Linked DNA regions of Homo sapiens: region 1 is linked to region 2. Evidence: fine-mapped expression QTL. A gene starts in region 2. The other region holds a variant in brackets. All regions are shown on one strand. Distances are between the middles of the regions. Region 1 overlaps GBF1 (golgi brefeldin A resistant guanine nucleotide exchange factor 1). Region 2 holds the start of PSD (pleckstrin and Sec7 domain containing).

Region 1 (4,387 bases), 100 kb before region 2:
TGTGCCACAGTTAACGAGTAGAATACTTGGCATGCCTGACAATCAGAAATCATAGTCATTGAATTTCTGAGCCATATGGCCATTTCCAGTCCTATCCTTTTAGATAGATAGACAGATAGACCAACTGATAAAATAAGACCCAGAAAATTTGAAGTTTGGCTGTGGTCATAAAAGCTAGTGTAGTCTATAGTCTGTAAGCAAGACTTTGGATTATTCTTCTTTGTATATCCAATGGCTAGCAGTGCCAGGCCCACAGAAGGTACAAAATAATATTCACTGAAGGAGAGGATGAGGGATTTGAATGCAGGAAGGCCAGTATTGTTTCAGTAATCCTATAAATGCCATTTTAAATAATTATTTTAAATTCCCTAATAATGGGAGATTATGCTAAACATCATTTTTAGCTATTCATGAACAACAAAGCAGTGCTCATATTAAGTTTTGGGAAGTGAGTTTTACTAAAACTTAGTAATAATAGTCTTCAGACTCTGTGATTTAGGCTGCCCAGTGCCCCCTTTTTTTTTCTAACTGGCTTTTAAAAAATAACATTTAGTAGTAATATAAGCCAGGCACAGTGGCATGTGTTGGTAGTCCCAGCTACTCCAGAGGCTGAGATGGGAGAATCGCTTAGCCCAGAAGTCCAAGTCTAGCCTGGGCAACATAGTGAGACCCTGTATCTAAAAAATAATAATAGCCCATGTCTACATAGACTATTATATAAATTTAGGAAGATACAAAAAAGTTTAAAGATGCTGGGCATGGTGGCTCATGCCTGTAATCCCAGCAGTTTGGGAGGCCAAGGTGGGTGGATCACCTGAGGTCAGGAGTTCGAGACCAACCTGGCCAACGTGGAGAAACCCCATCTTTACTAAAAATACAAAATTAGCCAGGCATGGTGGCACATGCCTGTAATCCTAGCTACTTGAGAAGGCTGAGGCAGGAGAATCGCTTGAACCCAGGAGGCGGAGGTTGCTGTGGCCAAAATCACGTCATTGCACTCCAGCCTGGGCGACAAGAGCAAGACTACATCTTTAAAAAAATAAAAAAGTTTAAAGAGATGGAAACAAGAACCTCCATAGTCCAATCACCTAAAGATAACTATTATTTTATCTTTTTTTAGCGCACGCAAACACAATATCACCCTTAGCAAAATGGGAATCATATTCTATACATTTTTGCCTCTTCTTTTATCATGTTATGGGCATTGTCCCACATCATTACACATTAGAAAATAAGATCTAATGATATTATTCATTGTATGAATGTTACAGAATTTATTTAAGAGCTTCCTGTTGTTGGTTATTTATTTATTTATTTTTATTTATTTATTTATTTATTTTGAGACGGAGTCTCGCCCTGTCACCCAGGCTGGAGTGCAGTGGTGTGATCTCAGCTCACTACAAGCTCTGCCTCCCGGGTTCACGCCATTCTCCTGCCTCAGCCTCCCAAATAGCTGGGACTACAGGCGCCTGCCACCACGCCTGGCTAATTTTTTGTATTTTTAGTAGAGACAAGGTTTCACCGTGGTCTCGATCTCCTGACCTTGTGATCCGCCCGGCCTCGGCCTCCCAAAGTGCTGGGATTACAGGTGTGAGCCACCATGCCCAGTCTATTTATTTATTTTAAGATAGTGTCTCACTTTGTTGCCTAGGCTAGAAGGCAGTGGTGTGGCTCACTGCACCCTCAACCTCCTGGGCTCAAGTGATTCTCCTGCCTTAGCCCCCCAAGTAGCTGGGACTACAGGTGCGCATCATCACACCCGGCTAATTTTTGTAATTTTTTTTTGTAGAGATGGGGTTTCGCCATGTTGCCAAGGCTGGTCTTGAACTCCTGGGCTCAAGCGATCCACCTACCTTGGCCTCCCAAAGTGCTGGGATTACAGGCATGAGCACCGTGCCCAGTGGTTATTTAGATTATTCCCAGTTTTTCAATATTATAAGCAATGTGGTATAAATATCTTGGTACACGATTTTTTGCTTATCACTCTTAAGGATCCTTATAATAAATTCCTTCTATTATTTTTATTTCTCTTTAGGTAATACATGTACATAGTTTTAAAAAGTCAAATTGTGCTGCAAAGTCCAACTTCCCCCCCTTCAAGGTCCCCTCCCTAAACTCTTTTAGCTGTTTATTCAGTTGTTTTCTTTTCTATTTCTAAATAATATGTTGATACTACATTTTTAAATAGGATTTTTACATTTTAAGCATTATCTATTGACTTCCTACTCCTACATGTAGATATAGCACATTTGCAATACTCACCACCCCATTCTCCTTTCCTCCATCCTCCCAATATAATTATCACCCCATTTGGTTAAACCAGTACTCATTCTTTACCTTATTAAGACCTTATAGCTGGGCACAGTGGCTCA[T/C]GCCTGTAATCCCAGCATTTTGGGAAGCCAAGACAGGAGGATCTGTTGAGGCCAGAAGTTCAAGACTAGCCTGGGTAGGCTGGGCGCAGTGGCTCATGCCTGTAATCCCAGCACTTTGGGAGGCTAAGGCAGATGGATCACGAGGTCAGGAGATCGTGACTATCCTGGCTAACATGGTGAAACCCCGTCTCTACTAAAAATACAAAACAAAATTAGCCGGGCGTGGTGGCAGGTGCCTGTAGTCCCAGCTACTCGAGAGGCTAAGGCAGGAGAATGGCATGAACCCGGGAGGCGGAGCTTGCAGTGAGCCGAGATCGCGCCACTGCACTCCAGCCTGGGTGACAGAGTGAGACTCCGTCTCAACAACAACAACAACAAAAGGCTAGCCTGGGTAACATAGCAGGACTCCTGTCTCTAAAAAAAAAGATCTTTAGTATTATTCATTTGAATTCATTATTCAAGTTTTCCCTTCCTTTTGAAAATATGCTGTTTTCTGTTACTATTACTGTTTCTTCTCAAATTCTACAAGTTTTAAAAACTGAATATTATTTTTCCACGTGGTCAAACACACAGCTCTTCTCTTCCATTTTTATCTCTTCCTAGAAACTCCTTCTCAGAGCCTCCCATCCTCTTCTTCTATTCTGTATTGGTTACTGTCTAGACCTCAGGCACAGCTGTCCTTCTGGAACTTCCCTTCAGTTTTCTCTAGATCTCCTTTTTCTTGTTTATGCTATGTCCATTTCTTTCTTTTTTCTTTTTCTTTTTCTTTCTTTTTTTTTTTTTTTTTGAGACAGAGTTTCACTCATGTCGCCCAGGCTGGAGTGCAGTGATGTGATCTCGGCTCACTGCAACCTCCGCCTCCCAAGTTCAAGCAATTTTCCTGCCTCTGCCTCCTGAGTAGCTGGGATTACAGGTGCCTGCCACCACGCCCAACTAATTTTTATATTTTTAGTAGAGATGGGGTTTCACCATATTGGCCAGGTTGATCTCAAACTCCTGACCTAAGGTGATGTGCCTCTGCCTTCCAAAGTGCTGGGATTACAGGCGTGAACCACTGCACCTGGCCCATTTCTTTCTTGATTTACTGTCTCACATTGGTTTTTTATTTTTTATTTTTTACGTCATCCAGTAGCTTCTAGGAAAGGACACCTGGGGATGTATGGTTTTTTTAGACATTGCTTATCTGAAGCTATCTTTTTATTCTATACTGACACTAATTGAAGGTTTTACCGGATATAGAATTCTAGTTTGGAAATAGTTTTCCTTCGAAACTTGATGGCTCTGCTTCTTTTTCTTCTCATTTCCAGTGTTGATCTTGAGTAGTCTGATGCCATATTGAATCTCAGTCCTTTATATTTAAACTGGAGTTCTTACAATTTCTTTATCCTCATTATTCTGAAACACTTGGTGTGGGTCTCTTTTAGTTATTCTGCTAGGTTCTTAGTAAGGGTCTTTTTGATCTGCAAAATTATATCATTTGATTTTGGGAAATGATCTTATATTAGTTCCTCAATAATTTCCCCTTTTCCCCCTTCTCCATTTTTTCTGTTTTCTCAATTAGTCCCCCTGTTTTCTGTTCCATGTCTCACCTTCTACCTGGTGCCTCCTTCCAGAGCTTGTTTCTTATTGGTACTTCCTTCTAAAGCAACTTGCTCTTCAGCCTTTTCTGCTCTGCTTATATTTCCTTTTCTTCTGCTAAGAATCTGTTAATGAATCTATGCTTGATTTTAGCTGAAAGGCTGAGAAGCAATCTGTTAATGAATCTCAGACAGTTTTCTTTTCACCTCAAGATCATTTTATTCTACTTATTATATATTTTAGTTTTTATTTTTAATTCTTTTTTTTTTTAAATGGAGTCTGACTCTGTCGCCCAGACTGGAGTGCAGTGGTGCAGTCTCGGAGTCTCGGCTCACTACAACCTCCACCTCCTAGATTCAAGTGATTCTCAAGCGTCAGCCTCCCGAGTAGCTGGGATTACAGGTGTGCACCACCACGCCCGGCTAGTTTTTGTATTT
Region 2 (4,387 bases):
GGTCCTCCGAAGAGTGTGGCCAGGCGCTCAGGGGGGCCCCCCAGCCCATTGGGGAGAGAGGAGTAAAGGCCATCTGCTCCAACCTGGGGTGGGGCTGGCGGCCCATGTACAAGGTTCCGGCTGCCAGGTAGGGCCGAGCCTCCTCTGGCGGGGAGTGGGTCTGATGTGGATGCTTCCAGCCGTAACTTCCGGTTGGAGCCAGGCCCAAGGGCTGGGGTGGGCCTGGGAGGAGAAACCCCACCCAGATCCCAGCTCCGACTCAAGCCCCCTGGAGCAGGTAGCCCATTCAGTGGCCTCACACTGGCCTTCTCCACAAAGCGGAAGATGACCACAGAGCTCTGGGCCCCGGGTGGGGGCTGCCCAGTGGGTGAAGAGGGTGCCCAGGGTGAGGGAGCAACACGGGGTGAGGGGGGGCCACGCAGAGGTGTACAGGGTGCTGTCACACGTCCCAGTTCCCGGCCTCGAGGACCTGGACCTGCCACTCGCCGTAGCAAGGAGCCTGTGCTGCCATACATGCTGGCTGGGGGGCTCTGGGGCACCGGGCCTTCGGGGAGCCAGCGGCGTGGGCATCGTGGTGGGGAGATGGCACAGTCGCCTTCCGAGCAGAAGCGCATGGCACCCTGGGCCATGCTGGGGCCGGGGGTCAGGCTGGGGGGGCAGGGATGGCGAGGCCAGGCGGGGAGTAAGGGGGCTGCATGCTCTTCAGACAGGCCTGTAAGAGAGGAAGGGGAGCATGGGGTGAACTGCCAAGGAGTTAGATGGATAGGACAGCAGAGATAGGGAAGGGAAAGTTGGCTAGGGCCTCTGAGTATCAGGGACCTAGCACACCCTGGTAATATGGGATCATTGATCCCACGCCTGGGGACTACTTCCATAGAGGCCTGACGAGAAAAGACTTATACACCCAGTGGGCCCCTGGCTCCTTTCCTTCTGCCTGAGGCCCTGAGCATCACCCTGGGAGGAGAGAGGAAGCAACTTCAAAGTTGAGTGAGCCCGGAGTTCTTATGGCACTTTGGAGCTACTTCTAGAATAGGGGAAGTTGGTACCCCACCCTCTGGAAAAGGGGTGTCAGCCAGCTGTCACCATCATACAGCCCTGTGACCCCTATAGTCTCTCTTATGGAGGCCCCTCACTCAGGGAAGGGAAACTCAGGCCTCCTGGAAGGAGAGGGAAGAGGAACAGGTGTTATATAGGGATGCTGAAGGGCTGAGAGGCACAGCATGGAAGTGGGGAGAAAAGCCTGAGCAGAGGCTCCTACCCCCAATATATACATACTGAGTGGGAAAGGGACATTCTTCTTTTTTTTTTTTTTTTTTGAGATGGAGTTTCGCCCCTGCTGCCCAGGCTGGAGTGGAATGGCGCTATCTCAGCTCACTGCAACCTCCGCCTCCCAAGTTCAAGTGATTCTCCTGCCTCAGACTCCTGAATAGCTTGGATTACAGGCGCTCAGCACTATGCCTGGCTAATTTTTGTATTTTTAGTAGAGATGGAGTTTCACCATGTTGTCCAGGCTAGTTTCAAACTCCTGACCTCAGGGGATCCACCCACTTTGGCCTCCCAAAGTGTTGGGATTACAGGCGTGAGCCACCGCACCCGGCCAGGGACATTCTTTTCTTCATACAGGTACAGACAGGCACCTACACACACACAAACACACACACACACACACACACACACACACGCACACACATACATAAGGACAAATATGTCAGTACACAGTTAAACACATTCATAGGCAACACCCTCTGGCACACACACAGACACACACACACACACACTGCTCAAAGACACACCCTCATGCACTCTCACAGTCATAACAAGTATGTGTGTAATGAAAAGGCACATGCTTGTTTTACACACACACCATCATCAAACAGGAACACACAAAGAGGTACCCAAATATATACACAAGCTGTCATTCTCCAGTGCACACAGAGGTCCAGGTGTATCAGACACTCACAGAGACCTACTGCTCACAGTCACATACACATACAGATGTACACATACAGATGTACACACTCAAGCAGGGACACACACCGTCCCCTCCCCCCCACCTACTGGGGTCTCTTGAGGGGAATCTGCACCCATATTCCTCTCCTCTCCCTCTCTCCCCAGGGGTAAGACAGATCCCGCCCAGGAGAGACCATAACCAGGTAAAGGGGCCTCTGGTGGCAATGCAGGGGAGGGGCAGAGGTCAGGAGTAGCAACCCTGCCAGGCAGGTTCCGGAAGCTCAACGGGGTCCCAGCGCATACCCGGTGCAGCCCCAACTCAATGCCACCTCAGTACTCACCGCTGCTCGCCCAGAGCTGAGACCGAGGAGAGACAGAGGAGAGGCTGGGCCCAGCTGAGCTGTGAAGGCAGCGCGGCTCCCGTTTGCTCCAGGCCCGCCCGCCTCTCAGTCCCTCCCCCTACCCCCTACGCGCCGCTCAGGCAACGCTAATCCCCCCCACCCCCCGCCCTCTCCCAGGGCCCAGAGCCCCGGAGGCTGCCAGCCCCCCTTGTCGCTAGGTCCCCGCTGGGCTCTCCCGCCAACCTAAGACCCGCCCCAGACAAGGAGGAGGGCGCATGGAACCCCTGGTTCTATTCCCCAGACCCTCACGTGCCCCACCCCACTTGTGTCCACGTCTCTCTCGCCCACCGCCCCTTGAGCCACACGTAAGGCCCGGCTGCACACGCGTGTCCCGCTCCAGACCCCACGCGTGTCCCTAGGAGGCTGCCACATGACCTGTTACATGCCACACGCGCTCCCGCCCCCACGAGCACGCGGCCGCGCCAAGCACACGGTATGGGTGTAGACTGGACCCGCCCCCTAAATCCAGGAGACCATCAACTATGGAAAGGAGATCTAGGGAACACCGTCTTGAACCCGCCAGGGGTTTTGAGTCTCGGACCCAGGAGATCCAACCCTGACCACCCTCCCAGGATGCAGCAGGGGGATGTTAAATCAGACTTCAGGAAGAACTTCCTTGCTGCCTGAGTTAGGTGTCGTCACGCCTGCCCAGGGGTAAGAGGTTAGACGGGATGAACTAGGGACCGGAAGACGTGGGGGACCGGCAACCCTTGTGCCCTTGGCCAGGGTAGAAGGGGGCCCTGCTATTTTAAGAAAGAGCCGCTGGAGTTACTATGGCAACTACTCTCTTTGGGAGGGCCAGGGCGGGCAGATGGTGACCTCGGAAGGAAGAAGGGGTCTGTTCGGGCAGTCAGGGGGCGCGAGGACGTGCGAGGCGGGGGCGCGCGGGGCTCACCGCGGGGAGGGGCGGCGCGGACTCCGCGTGGTGCTGAAGGGGACAGCGCCAGATTTGTCGCACTGCGCAGGCGCAGAGGCGCGAACAAAGAGGGGAGGGGGACGAGGCGCGCGGCCGGAGGTGGTGCGCGCTCACGTGGCTCTATCTTTGCAGGGGTCTGTCCTCCCAGCTACCCCCTCCCTAAGCAGGCTGAGGAAGAAGAGATAGCAAGCCCTCACCTAACTTGACCCCTTTCTTGTCTCTCCCCGCTGCTAGCTTCTCCCTTCTCGCTGCCTTGCGGGGTGGGGAAACGTGGAAGGAATTCTGGGAAAACCAGATGTCTGGGTTCTCTATTCCCGTCTGGCTTGATTCTGGACAAGGGGCTTCCTCTCCAGGGCCTCGGTTTCCCCATCTTTAAAATGGACTGATAGCATAGACCTGCCCACCTTTCAGAGGTGCCCGAAGCCTTGACGAGATAACAGATGAGAAGTGGTTTTCGTTGTGATGAGCCAGCTGAAGCGGTTGCACCGGAGCGCCAGACCGTCAGCGGTGCAGTGGCTCTCGCGTCCTTCACATCCCCCCACACCCATCCCGTGGATGATGGGGGAAGGCACTACTCCTGGGGTTCCCCGAAGCGGATCCTGGGACTGGGACCTGGGGACGCGGTGAGAGGCAGCCCTGAAGCTGAGTCCAGAGGTCTGGGGCGTCATTGTCCCAGGGCGGACCCAGCCCCAGACCCTACAACTAAACCCAAGGCCAGCCGAGAAGCACTACCACTGGCGGGCTGAGCTGAGCTCTCATTCTTCTTAGGACTCTGGACCTTTGGAGGAAATGAAAGGGACCCAGTTGGAAATATAGTCTTTCTTCGCGCCCCCTACATCTCTCTCCCCCGGCGGAAACGCGGCCCAAACTGTTACGAAGTGGAAGAGGCTGGATAGCTCTTCATAATTAATCAGGAATGGGAGGTTTGAGCAGGTTTACTTGATGAGGGAAACATTATAGCCTCGCCAATTCATTCATTATTTCAACAATTACTTATTGAACACCTGCTACGTGGCAGACAGTAAGAGCCTGGATAGTTTCTCCCCGTTTTTCAAAGTCGCTAAACGCGACCAGAGGGCAGAGGAGAGGCCGGTAACCTAAGAGTCCTGGCTCCGCCCCC

What was found. PIP is the estimated chance that this variant, and not a neighbour inherited with it, causes the effect. A credible set is the group of variants that fine-mapping cannot tell apart.
Region 1: its variant is the best candidate, but not a certain one, in a credible set for the expression of PSD in whole blood (INTERVAL, PIP 0.72).

What each region holds. Positions count from the first base shown.
Region 1 is chr10:102,316,587-102,320,973 of GRCh38, forward strand. The region is part of intron 3 of GBF1 (golgi brefeldin A resistant guanine nucleotide exchange factor 1); the gene reads left to right. Among named protein-coding and RNA genes, the nearest start is that of GBF1, 73 kb to the left of the region's middle. The variant T/C (reference allele first, on the strand shown) is at 2,373.
Region 2 is chr10:102,416,410-102,420,796 of GRCh38, forward strand. It overlaps PSD (pleckstrin and Sec7 domain containing), which reads right to left and starts at 2,376. Exons shown (of 17, transcript NM_002779.5): 1 at 2,292-2,376; 2 at 1-712. The coding sequence starts at 629. RefSeq lists an enhancer at 4,345-4,387.